Regions from separate parts of the Homo sapiens genome. Here all the other regions are reported to be linked to region 2. Evidence: microRNA targets listed by miRTarBase, many of them from high-throughput screens and not tested one by one. Region 2 holds a microRNA gene; each other region holds the end of a gene's coding sequence. Distances are from middle to middle.
Evidence for each region. Region 2 holds the annotated microRNA hsa-miR-182-5p (UUUGGCAAUGGUAGAACUCACACU, at 1,655-1,678, opposite strand). A microRNA usually pairs through its seed, bases 2 to 8, with sites in the 3' UTR of a target mRNA and lowers its output. Matches are read on the target gene's strand: a 7mer-m8 pairs with bases 2 to 8, a 7mer-A1 pairs with bases 2 to 7 and ends in A, and an 8mer does both.

Region 1: the mRNA of RGS2 is a reported target of hsa-miR-182-5p. Seed matches in the 3' UTR shown: 7mer-A1 at 748-754.
Region 3: miRTarBase lists THBS1 as a target of hsa-miR-182-5p. Seed matches in the 3' UTR shown: 7mer-m8 at 2,544-2,550.
Region 4: miRTarBase lists ATP13A3 as a target of hsa-miR-182-5p. Seed matches in the 3' UTR shown: 8mer at 1,649-1,656.
Region 5: miRTarBase lists SMARCD3 as a target of hsa-miR-182-5p. The part of its 3' UTR that is shown has no 7-base or 8-base seed match.

What each region holds. Positions count from the first base shown.
Region 1 is chr1:192,811,443-192,814,442 of GRCh38, forward strand. RGS2 (regulator of G protein signaling 2) reads left to right here. Exons shown (of 5, transcript NM_002923.4): 5 at 1-833. The coding sequence ends at 154. Among named protein-coding and RNA genes, the nearest start is that of RGS2, 3.9 kb to the left of the region's middle.
Region 2 is chr7:129,768,793-129,771,943 of GRCh38, forward strand. MIR182 (microRNA 182) reads right to left here and starts at 1,700; the gene lies at 1,591-1,700. LOC105375501 (a long non-coding RNA gene) reads right to left here and starts at 413. Exons shown (of 3, transcript XR_927963.4): 1 at 1-413. RefSeq lists an enhancer at 1,851-2,714.
Region 3 is chr15:39,594,784-39,597,783 of GRCh38, forward strand. THBS1 (thrombospondin 1) reads left to right here. Exons shown (of 22, transcript NM_003246.4): 22 at 579-3,000. The coding sequence ends at 586. It also overlaps a transcript of FSIP1 not described here. Among named protein-coding and RNA genes, the nearest start is that of THBS1-IT1, 10 kb to the left of the region's middle.
Region 4 is chr3:194,403,298-194,406,297 of GRCh38, reverse strand. It overlaps ATP13A3 (ATPase 13A3), which reads left to right. Exons shown (of 34, transcript NM_001367549.1): 34 at 182-3,000. The coding sequence ends at 379. Among named protein-coding and RNA genes, the nearest start is that of GP5, 5.5 kb to the right of the region's middle.
Region 5 is chr7:151,236,541-151,239,540 of GRCh38, reverse strand. SMARCD3 (SWI/SNF related BAF chromatin remodeling complex subunit D3) reads left to right here. Exons shown (of 13, transcript NM_001003801.2): 12 at 44-145; 13 at 385-761. The coding sequence ends at 438. It overlaps CHPF2 (chondroitin polymerizing factor 2), which reads right to left. Exons shown (of 4, transcript NM_019015.3): 3 at 2,951-3,000; 4 at 719-2,167. The coding sequence ends at 860. MIR671 (microRNA 671) reads right to left here and starts at 1,120; the gene lies at 1,003-1,120.

The sequences.
Region 1 (3,000 bases), not on the chromosome of region 2:
TATACAAGAAGCTACAAGTGGCTGCTTTACAACTGCCCAGAAAAGGGTATACAGCTTGATGGAGAACAACTCTTATCCTCGTTTCTTGGAGTCAGAATTCTACCAGGACTTGTGTAAAAAGCCACAAATCACCACAGAGCCTCATGCTACATGAAATGTAAAAGGGAGCCCAGAAATGGAGGACATTTCATTCTTTTTCCTGAGGGGAAGGACTGTGACCTGCCATAAAGACTGACCTTGAATTCAGCCTGGGTGTTCAGGAAACATCACTCAGAACTATTGATTCAAAGTTGGGTAGTGAATCAGGAAGCCAGTAACTGACTAGGAGAAGCTGGTATCAGAACAGCTTCCCTCACTGTGTACAGAACGCAAGAAGGGAATAGGTGGTCTGAACGTGGTGTCTCACTCTGAAAAGCAGGAATGTAAGATGATGAAAGAGACAATGTAATACTGTTGGTCCAAAAGCATTTAAAATCAATAGATCTGGGATTATGTGGCCTTAGGTAGCTGGTTGTACATCTTTCCCTAAATCGATCCATGTTACCACATAGTAGTTTTAGTTTAGGATTCAGTAACAGTGAAGTGTTTACTATGTGCAACGGTATTGAAGTTCTTATGACCACAGATCATCAGTACTGTTGTCTCATGTAATGCTAAAACTGAAATGGTCCGTGTTTGCATTGTTAAAAATGATGTGTGAAATAGAATGAGTGCTATGGTGTTGAAAACTGCAGTGTCCGTTATGAGTGCCAAAAATCTGTCTTGAAGGCAGCTACACTTTGAAGTGGTCTTTGAATACTTTTAATAAATTTATTTTGATAAATAATATTGAACACTTGGAGTCTAGATGTGATTTTATTTTTGATAACTGGAAATGTGGCAGATAAAGGGAAAACATCTTTATAGTAAAAGACATTTCAGTTTTTGTGCCTGCCCAGTGAGAATTGACAGTCTTCAGAACTGAGAAATGATAGTTGCAGACAGATAATTCTTTTTTTAAAACCTATAAGCATTATGCAGACCTAAGGAAGTCACATCCTTAGAACCACTGCATTTATGCTTTCTAATCTTAAAAAAAAATCAAGCTTGTTAATGAAACACTGATCTAAAGGATTCTGTATCTAAGTACCAGCTAAATATGAGAAGTAAATGTAATGGAGACAAGCACAAAAATTATTCACATAATTAAGCTTCTCAAATGAAGAAAGAAGCCAAATAAGGTCAATGTATGCCTGTCTTTATTTACTTTCCATTGGTTCCAAGCTCCCCCACAAGTACCAGCATGGGCTTCCAAGATACATACCTGAAATTGTTCCCTTCCATAATGTATCAATAGAAAATCTCAGAATTTTCCTGATTTTCATGCCTTCATTTGGCCAACAAAGAATCTGTTACTTTAGGTAATGATAAAGTCAAAAGAAGTGCGCTTTCGTTTCTTAGACTTAAATCCAGAAATGTGCTTTTTTCCACTTGAGAGAGGAAGCCCTTGAATCTGTTTTCAAACTGGCTAATTAAAAAGCACCCCTTCCTCAGCAGGCTGTTTTTTTCAATGTCCTTGATTATGGTCTTAATAAAAAAGGAGGAGGAACCCTGATTTTAGAGTTGGAAGAACTGACGCAAAGTAATCATTTCTCATAGCTTTGTGACCTTGGGTGTCCCCATTGTCTTCTCTGACTCTTCATTTTAGACCTTCCTGCCTTTCTGGTTTTATAAAGTAGTAAGGGACTTTAGAAATCATAAAGCACTAAGAACATTTTTTTTCTGATTTGCCAGAAGAAAAATTGACCTCCAGTAGTTTACTGTTTCCATTGTGATTGCACTAATTTTCACCTTAGCCAGAGTTTCTGGCACCAACAGACACAAGCTCTATTAGAGAGACTGCCTTGTCTACTGTATCACAGCAGCCAGAATAATACATAATAGGTGCTCCATAAATATTGATTGAATAAATGAATCCAAAGAGTCATTGAAACAAATATTTCTTTGGAGAATAAATGTGTCAGGTCTAGCATAATCCTTAATTTGGAAAGATTTTGACCAACAGAGGAACTCAGGAGTCATGCCATATATCATCCTATTTGTCACCAAGTCATTTATTTTACTTCAAACCTCTCTACAGCCTACTCTCTGTTACCACTCTGATCAAAGACACCACCATCTGATGCCTAGATTACTGCAATAGTCTCATCTCCTCTCACCCACTCTTCCCCCTCTCCCACACCAATGTGTTCCTGCCTTTTAACTCTAGGGATCCCTTCAAGACAAATCTGATCTTGTCTCCAGTTGCTTATAAACACCTTGACAGGTTTTGCAAACAATTAGGATAAAGACAGTATCTCTAATATGGCCTAACACCTGCATGGCTTGACCCCTCCTTTTGTTCCAACCTTGACTCTACCACATTTCTCCCAGCTCTTTCTGCTAAGCCACACTGTCCTACTTTCCTAGCAGGTGCCATGCCCACTGGCCTCACAGGACCTTAGCACCTAATAGTTCCTCTGCATGGAATTCAGTTTTAGCTCTTACTCATGCACATATCAATGCAATTGCCACTTCCTTAGGGAAGCTTCCCTGACCTCCTTACCTCGGTCAGATCCCCTTTTAGATGGTCTTATAGCACCAGGTTCTCTAATTTAGAGCACTTAATGGAGTTGTAAGTTCTCATTAATTTGTCTGATTATTTAATAATTCTATATCTTCCTCCACCAAATTGTAGGAACCACAATTTGAGGACCCTTGGCCTTTTTCCGCTCACCACTGAATCCCAACACCTAGCATAGTGCCTGCTGTACAATGGGAGCTGCATAAATAGTTGTTGAATGAATGGATGAGTATTAAAAGATCTTGCAAACAAATTTTGATGAAACAAGGATCTACCAATGCACAAGCAATTAAGGACAAGACTTTTTTTAAACCCCACTGGCTCAAATGTCTGAAAATATCTGTAGAACTTTTTTCTTTGGCAAAAATAAGTAACTACCTCTTAGTTGGCAAAGTCTC
Region 2 (3,151 bases):
ACAAGAGCCATCCAACCAGAACACACATCTGATCACACCCCCTCTGGCTGCGTGGCTCCCATGGTCCTTAGGTTCGGGAACAAATGCAGCCTTAAGATGGCCAGCCTTCCAGCCCGGCATAGACCCCAGGAAATCTGTGTGCTCTCCAACAGGAGTCTCCTCCTCTCCCTGAGGGTCACTCATCTTCCAGGACTCCCCACCCCTCCCTGTGTCCCAGCAGGTGCCGTGTGGCCCTAGCTCAGAGCAGCCTTCTTCATGCCCTGCAGAGCCAGCCTGTTTACGCAGCGTCTGCTTGTGCTCACGGCATGTAACATGCATAGTGCAGCCTGCGGGAGAACAGTTCCCTTCTCTTTCTGTCTCAAGAGCTGCCGGCTCAGACCTTCCCTACTCGGCCTGTGTCTCCCCAAAAGAGCGCAGTGAGCTGCACGGAGCCGGTTGAGCCTGGAGCCACCAGATAGATGTCTGCCCCGCCCTGCCCAGCCACAGGGGTTGGTGGGTCATGGAACCACACATGACCCTCCGAGGGCAGGTGAGGAGAAAGGAGGGCTGATGGGGGCTGATAGAAGGGGTTTGGGGGATGGGGAGCACCAGAGAAGGAAGGCTGGCAGGCCGAGGGCTGGGGAGCAGGGGATAGGCCTTCACATTTGCATTTGCACCGTTCACTGCGGGCTAGGCCACACTCACACACACACTTACACCTGCACCCACACCCTCTCAACCACACGCGCAGCTCCCACTCTGGCTCCTGAGCCATCTGCAGGCCAGGAGACTCCAGGGCCGGGCTTCCCCAGCAGGTCTGCCCACCAAGCCCAACTCTCTGGGAAGTGCCACTCACTCTGACCCTGTGGCCCGGCTCCGGCTCAGGGGAGCTCCCACTGCAAACACAAGCTCTGGGAAGGTGAGTGGAGGCTTTGTCTCAGGTTCTGAGGCGTCAGGAGGAACAAATCCATGAAGTGGAATGCTGGAGGCATAGAGGTCCAGCCCATGGGCCACCTGCACCCCAGGGGGCCAGTCCCGCATTTACACAAGTGACTTGTACACTCTCCTCCTGCACATCTCTGGAGGCTTATCCCATCTGGCCCTCCATGGCCTCAGCAGGATCACTGGATGTCCGTGATGCACGGCGTGCCCTCCCTGCCCTCATCCTCCCAGCCAGCAGCCCAGGAAGGAACCACTCTTAGTGACCTGTGGAAGGTTAGGAGACCCTCCCTCGGGGCCCTAGAGCCCACCCTGAACAGGGCCTTTCAGGGGAGAGGGTGAGAAGGTTCACCACCCAGAGGAGCCAGGCCAAAGCCCTGAAACCAAACATCCCCCAGTTCCCTCACTCCTCGATTCAGACTCCAGGGCCACAGCCTGGAGCAGAGCTGGACCCCAGCTCCTCTTGGCAGCACCCCTGAGGGCCAGAGAACGGCTTCCCAGCTGACTTGAGGACCTGTGACCTCAGGGGGATGCAGGGAAACACAGAGTGTCACTTCCAGCTGCACCTGCCCTCTGCCACTACCCAGCAGTCCGGGACCTGAGTCCCCTCCTTCCTCGCGGAGAACAGCAGGTCCAGCATGGCCGGCCCTTCCCTCGCTGGCTGTGCACAGGGTGCCGGCTGAGTCCTCGCCCCATAGTTGGCAAGTCTAGAACCACCGGATCCTGTTACCTCACCAGTGTGAGTTCTACCATTGCCAAAAACGGGGGGAGGCAAGCAGCTCCCCCCAGGAGCTGGGGAGGCCTCGGTCTGTGCTGAGGAAGAGACAGAGACAGTTAGGATGGTCCAGGCAGGGCCAGGACAGAGGCGCCCATCCCCGCAACTGCGACAAGGTCCTTCCTGCAGGGTCGCCCTGGTGTGGAGGCCCAACCCCACAGTCCCCCTTCCTGCTGGTCCCGGTCCCTCCTCAGCCCCCTCCTCTCCTCCCTTCCCCTCATATCTGTAACCTGCAGTTCCTGTGGGCAGGCATGGAGCAGACACCATCCCTAGGGCAGCCACCAGGATCCAACCCAGGCCCTGAGCTGTGGTCACCACTCCCAAGGGAACCCGAGGGCACCTCCACTCCCAGCACCTGACAGCAGGGACTCTGGGAACCAGCACAAGCCAGGCCAGAGAGCCCTGCCCCTGGGCGCTGGGGAAGAGATGGCTAATGTGGGCTGGGTTTTGCTATTTACTAAGCCCACGTCACTGCTCCATTTAATCCAGAGAGATGCTCCCAAGCCATTCCCTAGAGCCTAAAGCTCACAGGCTGCCCACCCCAAAGGGAGAGAGGGAAGTTGCTACACAAAACATTCCTCCTCCCTATCAAGTCCAAGGGAGGAAGAGCATTCCACTTGCCAAGGCCTCTTCCCTAAAAGCAGTGGACAAACAATGGCGCTGGGACCTTCTACCCAGGAACGGGAACAGGCAGCCTCTGGGGCCATCAGTCAGTGGCAGGAATGGGCCAAGCTAAAACCAACCAAATATCTCCCATCCAGACGGCACTCTCCTGACCACAGAACCCACTGCACACACCCAGCAGCCCTGCACACACCCAGACCCTTTGAGGGCTGGCTGCGATCTGATTCTCGGAGTGGCATTTCCCCAGACCGCCAGTCACTTACCCAAGGGCAGCACACTTCCGTGTTCCCACTTCCCCTGATGAGGCCAGGTCCTTTCCCAAGGGGTGTTGAAGTGTCCTGAAGGCATCTCAAGCCTTTAGCAAGGGTGCAGGCTGCCTGCCCCCAACCCTGCATCCCCATGCCTCCCCTGCAGCCTGGAAGGGACTCTTTGCCCTCAAGCCTCCTGGGCAGTATGGGCCCACCATGAGCAGGCTCATTTTCCGAACATGCCCCGGCTGGGGGAGCAGCTGACTTGGCAGGGCCCCCAAAATGACACCGCTGCCGCCGCCACCGCCACCACCCCTCCCATCCTGCCTGCCCTTTAGGGTGGAGTGAGATGGGATGATGGCTTAAGATGCAAACAGATCCAGGCCATCCCCAGGGCCAAGTCCAGGACCTCGGTGGCACCCAGACCGGACCGGCAGCCTGGGCTTGGGCGCTGGGGAGGACACCTCTGCCCGAAAGGAGAGGCTTGGTGGGGAAGGTTTGGCCTCTGAGCAGAGGCACGACTCTGGAAGCCTCTCCGAGGGTGGGCGGGCCTGCTTTGGGACATCAGCAGCACTGGGCTCTCTTG
Region 3 (3,000 bases), not on the chromosome of region 2:
CATGCCATCACAGCACGAGTTAGCATTCCCAACTTTTCCCTGTATACAAAGAAGGGAGAGGAATGTTGCTTTCATATTGGCATGTTAAATTAATGTTCACTATTAAACTTAGCATTTTTTTTCCTCATTCTTTTTTACTTAGTCATTACTTAAGCTCGCTGAGTCCAACACTGGCTCTACCACAAAATAAGTGCTTAATATATATTTACTGGGCCAAGGCCAGATACCTAAAAGATCAATGACAGTAGAGAAAGATGGTTGATTTTACTCAAAAAAATCTAAATTATTAATGTAATTTTTGAGTCCAAATTTTTAAAATAAGACTCCCTAAACTGTTAACATTGAAAGCCTTTGGAAAGCATAATATATGTTCTGGAAGGTTCACGCTGTGTCGGTCTCCTAGCATCAATGTCAGCTAATAAAATTAAATGCTAATGTGCTTGAACAACCTTAAAATTAGGCTTTTGTCATTAGAAAAGTAGAGCTATTCCTATGTGGTTAACTTATTAACTAAGATGTCTATGCTTTTATGAATTAGTTTTCATTTGTATATTTATTTATATTTGTTTATTTAACAGATCCCTAATCATCAAATTGTTGATTGAAAGACTGATCATAAACCAATGCTGGTATTGCACCTTCTGGAACTATGGGCTTGAGAAAACCCCCAGGATCACTTCTCCTTGGCTTCCTTCTTTTCTGTGCTTGCATCAGTGTGGACTCCTAGAACGTGCGACCTGCCTCAAGAAAATGCAGTTTTCAAAAACAGACTCAGCATTCAGCCTCCAATGAATAAGACATCTTCCAAGCATATAAACAATTGCTTTGGTTTCCTTTTGAAAAAGCATCTACTTGCTTCAGTTGGGAAGGTGCCCATTCCACTCTGCCTTTGTCACAGAGCAGGGTGCTATTGTGAGGCCATCTCTGAGCAGTGGACTCAAAAGCATTTTCAGGCATGTCAGAGAAGGGAGGACTCACTAGAATTAGCAAACAAAACCACCCTGACATCCTCCTTCAGGAACACGGGGAGCAGAGGCCAAAGCACTAAGGGGAGGGCGCATACCCGAGACGATTGTATGAAGAAAATATGGAGGAACTGTTACATGTTCGGTACTAAGTCATTTTCAGGGGATTGAAAGACTATTGCTGGATTTCATGATGCTGACTGGCGTTAGCTGATTAACCCATGTAAATAGGCACTTAAATAGAAGCAGGAAAGGGAGACAAAGACTGGCTTCTGGACTTCCTCCCTGATCCCCACCCTTACTCATCACCTGCAGTGGCCAGAATTAGGGAATCAGAATCAAACCAGTGTAAGGCAGTGCTGGCTGCCATTGCCTGGTCACATTGAAATTGGTGGCTTCATTCTAGATGTAGCTTGTGCAGATGTAGCAGGAAAATAGGAAAACCTACCATCTCAGTGAGCACCAGCTGCCTCCCAAAGGAGGGGCAGCCGTGCTTATATTTTTATGGTTACAATGGCACAAAATTATTATCAACCTAACTAAAACATTCCTTTTCTCTTTTTTCCTGAATTATCATGGAGTTTTCTAATTCTCTCTTTTGGAATGTAGATTTTTTTTAAATGCTTTACGATGTAAAATATTTATTTTTTACTTATTCTGGAAGATCTGGCTGAAGGATTATTCATGGAACAGGAAGAAGCGTAAAGACTATCCATGTCATCTTTGTTGAGAGTCTTCGTGACTGTAAGATTGTAAATACAGATTATTTATTAACTCTGTTCTGCCTGGAAATTTAGGCTTCATACGGAAAGTGTTTGAGAGCAAGTAGTTGACATTTATCAGCAAATCTCTTGCAAGAACAGCACAAGGAAAATCAGTCTAATAAGCTGCTCTGCCCCTTGTGCTCAGAGTGGATGTTATGGGATTCTTTTTTTCTCTGTTTTATCTTTTCAAGTGGAATTAGTTGGTTATCCATTTGCAAATGTTTTAAATTGCAAAGAAAGCCATGAGGTCTTCAATACTGTTTTACCCCATCCCTTGTGCATATTTCCAGGGAGAAGGAAAGCATATACACTTTTTTCTTTCATTTTTCCAAAAGAGAAAAAAATGACAAAAGGTGAAACTTACATACAAATATTACCTCATTTGTTGTGTGACTGAGTAAAGAATTTTTGGATCAAGCGGAAAGAGTTTAAGTGTCTAACAAACTTAAAGCTACTGTAGTACCTAAAAAGTCAGTGTTGTACATAGCATAAAAACTCTGCAGAGAAGTATTCCCAATAAGGAAATAGCATTGAAATGTTAAATACAATTTCTGAAAGTTATGTTTTTTTTCTATCATCTGGTATACCATTGCTTTATTTTTATAAATTATTTTCTCATTGCCATTGGAATAGATATCTCAGATTGTGTAGATATGCTATTTAAATAATTTATCAGGAAATACTGCCTGTAGAGTTAGTATTTCTATTTTTATATAATGTTTGCACACTGAATTGAAGAATTGTTGGTTTTTTCTTTTTTTTGTTTTGTTTTTTTTTTTTTTTTTTTTTGCTTTTGACCTCCCATTTTTACTATTTGCCAATACCTTTTTCTAGGAATGTGCTTTTTTTTGTACACATTTTTATCCATTTTACATTCTAAAGCAGTGTAAGTTGTATATTACTGTTTCTTATGTACAAGGAACAACAATAAATCATATGGAAATTTATATTTATACTTACTGTATCCATGCTTATTTGTTCTCTACTGGCTTTATGTCATGAAGTATATGCGTAAATACCATTCATAAATCAATATAGCATATACAAAAATAAATTACAGTAAGTCATAGCAACATTCACAGTTTGTATGTGATTGAGAAAGACTGAGTTGCTCAGGCCTAGGCTTAGAATTTGCTGCGTTTGTGGAATAAAAGAACAAAATGATACATTAGCCTGCCATATCAAAAACATATAAAAGAGAAATTATCCCTAAGTCAAGGGCCCCCATAAGAATAAAATTTCTTATTAAGGTCATTAGATGTCATTGAATC
Region 4 (3,000 bases), not on the chromosome of region 2:
CCACCACGCCCGGCCAAAGCTGCCTTTTTTTAACATGGATTTTTTTTTCCCCCATTCGTTGTGCTCAGAAGTCATTTCCTCTTATTTTTCTCTGCTAATGTGTGCTTTAACAAACCTGTTTAAAACGACAAGCCTTTAATCAACTGGGGTGTTTTGTTTTGTTTTTTTCTTATTTTCTTAGGAGTCAGTGGATCGGTGGGGAAAATGCTGCTTACCCTGGGCCCTGGGCTGTAGAAAGAAGACACCAAAGGCAAAGTACATGTATCTGGCGCAGGAGCTCTTGGTTGATCCAGAATGGCCACCAAAACCTCAGACAACCACAGAAGCTAAAGCTTTAGTTAAGGAGAATGGATCATGTCAAATCATCACCATAACATAGCAGTGAATCAGTCTCAGTGGTATTGCTGATAGCAGTATTCAGGAATATGTGATTTTAGGAGTTTCTGATCCTGTGTGTCAGAATGGCACTAGTTCAGTTTATGTCCCTTCTGATATAGTAGCTTATTTGACAGCTTTGCTCTTCCTTAAAATAAAAACAGAAAAATATATCGTCCTAACAGTTAAATTAACAATCAATCCATAAAGTCCTATATCTTCATTCAGCAACCCAAATATTACATACATTTCCAGAATTTTCTTGATTGTTACTTTCAGTGATATTCTTTATATTGGGTACAGGAGAAGTTTGGTGTTTGGTAGGTTTTTCAACATTAGTTTTTGAGACTAGTTTACCTCTTCACATTTATGCTCACAACCCTCTTGTTAGAAAAGTCTGTGTTTATATACAGGCTGTAAGTTTGTGATTGATAAAAAGAAGATGAGTGTTAATTAGCCTCCAGTGAAAATATACTGAAAGCCTGTTTTCATTTGATTCCAATGTTTCTTCCAAAGAATTCTGTATAAACATATGCCAATTCCCTATGATGGTCTAGAGTTAGGAATGAGTGTTTATGGTGTTGCTTATAGAACAACTCAGGTAATCTCCATTTCTGGTTTTATATTTTCTGTACAAACTGCCTGGGTTTTATTTTTCTAATCAGCAAGGTGCTTCACTGCCTTCTTGAGACGCCTCTCAAAGCTCTTAAATGGCTCCTGTGCTATGTGTGGTGTTGGCAGTCTAATTTGCTTCTGTTAAATGTTGTAGAACCTTTTTCACTAGGAAATAAGATTCATTTCTTTCGGCAGTAGATGTAGATTCATCTTTTAACGTTTCTTCAAATTTGTTTCTGTCAGGCTTTGTGTTATTTTAAATGGTTTTTTAAAATTTTCTTCTATGTTTTCAATTACCTAAAGACATAGGATAATAGTTTTTTTTAAGTTAGAATTTTACCTCATAAAATTTTTTGAGGTTTGATGTATGTCTCTGTCTTATCAATAATGAGGCTTAAAAAATACTGGATTTGAATGGCTGCCGTTTTTTCAAAGCAATATGAATTTGATGAGTTTGTTTTATGCCATTAGGTGGCGCCAGAGGTCAGAACATGTCTATTTTGAATTGGATCGTTACAAATGAGCATATTTGATGCGGAAATTTCTGGGAGAAAAAAAATTGAGGAAATAAAGTTAAAAAATTGACATTCATTGAGCCAAAAGAGATGTGGAGAAACATTTTTCACCTTTCTGTTTGGCCTGATTAACATTTAAATTCTTGCCAAAATTAAGGTAACTTTTAAAAAACACCTTTTATAGGTGGATCCAGCAGTCTGGCAACGCCCACAGTTACCACAACACAGAAAACTGATCGTGCTATAAAATGGACGCTAAACTATGAAAACAGTGTGACATTGTTCTCTGTTCTTCCAGAGCCAGTAACATGCTTGCTCGTGCTTTCTACTTCTAGCTGATCATTCTTTTCCCAACATATATTTACAAATTTACCAAATTTTACCTAGAATTTTAGGACCAAATGGTTCTCACTCTTTATGCTGCAAAGACCTGGATGATGTTTGGTAACTATAGAAAAATAGAAATTACACTCAGGATCACTGTTACTGCTATTGCCACTGATGATTCCTGCAAAAATATAATCGAAGTTTTCCATCAAATGTATAATATGCTATTAATACACATTAGATGATAACAGTTGTTCCATGAATGATTCTATGAAGCTATGCATCTTAGACCTCTTGAGCTGTGAATTAGCACTATTTTCTATAGTTACTTATTCTCTGGATCATTTTATAATTTCCATATTAATTTCAAATATGCTCGTGTTATTCTTCAGTGATTTCCACAATTGTGCATTTTATTCTTTGGTTTAAGTACTGAAGCATATAATGAAAGTAATTGCTAAGTAGCAGCTTAAAAATTCAATTATCCGATTGTATTTAACATCTTTAAGAGCATGATCATAAAGAGCTATTTTTGACACCCCCCCCCCACTTTTTTAACATTTAGAGTTAGTAAGGGTTTTATATCTCTTCTGTCCATATTGTTTTCAAAGGAATGAGGTGTTTAGGTGGCTGGAAAAGCATTTGTAGGAAGTTAGATTTGAATATAGACAAGGTGGGTTATTCACGTTGAGAATGTTATTTGAAGAATGCCTGTGAAGCCAGGTGTGGGTTCTACTCAGTGCCATAGATAGACTGAGTCTTCTCTCGTAGGTTACCATTACATAGTAATTTTGATTCTGAATTTCACATTAAATTATTTGAGTTTATACAGACCTAAATTTTAAAATCTGTACATATATTATTTTGATGTATTAAGATGAATATTGCTGATTTAAATTTTATTTATGCACATACTTAAAGGACAGAAATGTCTGGGAAAGTAATTGTTAAATAATGATATGTAACTTTTTAACTTTTTAAATAAATAACAAGATTTTTAATGTGTGTCTCCCTCAGGGTTGTTTAAAGTTTTTTTTCTCCCTCAAGTATAAATAGTGGTAACTATATGTTTTGTATCTTCTAGCACCAACTGCTGTAAAGCAATGCTGCAAATAATGCTTGAATACAAGTGGCTAAGCCAACAACAGAATAAATACTTTTATAGTAG
Region 5 (3,000 bases), 21 Mb from region 2:
GAGGGGATTCAGGGCTCAGGGCTCACCCCACGCTCCCTCCCAGGTGATGACAGATGTAGCCGGCAACCCTGAAGAGGAGCGCCGGGCTGAGTTCTACCACCAGCCCTGGTCCCAGGAGGCCGTCAGTCGCTACTTCTACTGCAAGGTATGCAGGGACCCTTGCCCTGAGGCTTCCCCATCCTCAACTCCAAGAGAAACCTCCCTGTTCAGCTTGTGGGCAGCCCTCGCAGCTCCCCACAGTAAAGCTTCACCACGCTGCCTCACCATGCAATGGCCCTCCCTGCTCCCAGATGCTCTTTCAGGGCAGGCGGTGTCAGTAGGTGGGATTGTCCTGATCACTCACCAGAACACTGACACCTGCTCCTGTTCTCACTTCCTCTAAAGATCCAGCAGCGCAGGCAGGAGCTGGAGCAGTCGCTGGTTGTGCGCAACACCTAGGAGCCCAAAAATAAGCAGCACGACGGAACTTTCAGCCGTGTCCCGGGCCCCAGCATTTTGCCCCGGGCTCCAGCATCACTCCTCTGCCACCTTGGGGTGTGGGGCTGGATTAAAAGTCATTCATCTGACAGCAGCCGTGTGGTCATTGGAAACTGGGGAGGGGAGGGGGAGAGAAGGGGAAGGGAAGAAGGTGGGGAGGCAGTGGGTCCCTCGGGACGACTCCCCATTCCCTTCCCTTGGATTCTTCTCCTTACTCAATTTTCCCTAGACCTAAAAACAGTTTGGCAGAAGACATGTTTAATAACATTTTCATATTTAAAAAATACAGCAACAATTCTCTATCTGTCCACCATCTTGCCTTGCCCTTCCTGGGGCTGAGGCAGACAAAGGAAAGGTAATGAGGTTAGGGCCCCCAGGCGGGCTAAGTGCTATTGGCCTGCTCCTGCTCAAAGAGAGCCATAGCCAGCTGGGCACGGCCCCCTAGCCCCTCCAGGTTGCTGAGGCGGCAGCGGTGGTAGAGTTCTTCACTGAGCCGTGGGCTGCAGTCTCGCAGGGAGAACTTCTGCACCAGCCCTGGCTCTACGGCCCGAAAGAGGTGGAGCCCTGAGAACCGGAGGAAAACATCCATCACCTCCAGCCCCTCCAGGGCTTCCTCCTCTTCCTGGCCTGCCAGTTCACCTGCCAGCCGGGCTCGGGCCGCCAGGTAGTCAGCGTTGTAGAAGCAGCCCTCCGCAGAAGCCTGCCGGTCAAATCTCCCCCCTATAGGAGCCCCCCGGGAGGGGTCAGCACCAGGAGGGGAGGGGGGGTCAGGGCCAGCCCCCGGGGGCCCTGGGGGTGATCTCTGTGGTGACAGGGCAGGATTGAACTCCTGGAAATGGACTGGAAAGAAGGCCTGCCAGCCAGAGATGGCATTCATGCGACAGCGGTTGAGGACTTCGGGCCCAGGCCTTGTCCACACGGTGGTAAGGAAGAAGAGAGTGTCCACAGGGTGCTTCTTCGAGACCACGTCCATGAGTCGCACCTGGGAAGGGGCCTCTGCTCGCACAGCGAGCCAGGCCAGCCTCGTCCCAGGGTACCGTCGCTCTAACTCCGCTGCTGCAGCCTTCACCCCAAGAAATGGGTCTGGAGCTCCACGGCCACCTTCTCGTGGCCCGTAGACCAGCAACAGGGTGAGCAATGCATGTTCTCGTGGCTCCAGGACATTGGCTGCAAAGGCCTCGAGGAAAGCCGGGGCTGCAGCAGCTTCAGCCACCAGGAGTGGCAGCACCAGCTGCACTCGGGTGGCCTCAGTGACATAGGGCATAGGTAGGATTTCCACCCGGCTCAGTGGCCGCAGCAGGCTGACCCTGCGAGCCAGGGCCCGCCGGTGCCCACGCTGTGTCACACATTCCAACAGCAGGTCCAGGGTGTACTCCATGCCCCGTGCTGGGTCGAAGCGCCGATAGCCGTTGAGCAGTCGCTGCTTCTGGAAGCGCAGGCGGGGCTGATAGCGCCGATTGAGCTGCTCCAGGGCAGTCTCCAACGCATCACCCACGTCCGCCCTGCTAGCCCCCTGTAGTGGGCACTTGGGAGCCCCATCTGCACAGGAGAAGGTGTGCTGCTCTGTGAAGTAGTCCCAGCCCAGCACCTCAAAGCGAGAGTGTGGTGTGAAAGGAGCAGGGAGCCCAACGGGCCAGCTCAGCCCTGCCTCCCCTTCGGGGGTCAGCACGGTCAGGTTCCGGATCTGAGCCTGGGTTGGAGGGAATGCACCTCACATTAGTGCCAGCTCCAGGATCCTACCCAGCTCCAGCTGCCTGGGCTCTGAGATTCAAACAGCTGAGCTCTGTCCTAACTCCATCAACACTTAGTGAGGGGTCCCTTGCTAATCACTGAATCCCTTGTACGTTATTCTTCACCTCTAAAATGCAGATGGAATAGGAATCATACTCACCTTACACAAATGCCATGAGAAGGAGGTGGAAAATGTGCTTTTTGCACAGGTAAAAGTATCTTGAAATAGAAGCTCAACAGCCTTTCTCTCCTACACCCAAAGGACTCACATCCTCTTCATAATCACACCTTTGTTTTCATCTACACTCCACCTCTGCCAAGCCTGACGTTCAACTTGAGAATTCTCCCTTCTACCCTTGGGCTTTCTTGGGACAGTTCTAGAAGTAAAGAAACTTCAGAGTTTTTGCCTCCTCAGTGGACAGGCACTATTGAGGAGGAGCTAAAACTATTCTGTCTGAACACTGTGCGGAGCTTCCTGATCCTCAGAGTCTACTTGCAAACCCCTTTAGCTGCATTCAAGTTGTGCTGGGAGCTTACCTTATGATTGCTTTGGACCCCCAAAGACCTTTGTCCCTGTAGTTGCTTTAAATTTAAGTATGGTCGGCCTCTTCCTGCCCTGCCATTATACAGGGCCTAGCCCAGCCCCACTGCCAGCTGCTCGTTCATTGCACGCCTGGACATCTCAGGCTCTCTCTGACCCTCTGACTGCGGTCCTCTGCCCACCTGCTCCTCTTCAGCTCACCTGCAGTTGTTCTATTTCACTGTAAGCCCGCTCCAACTCCAGAGCGCTGA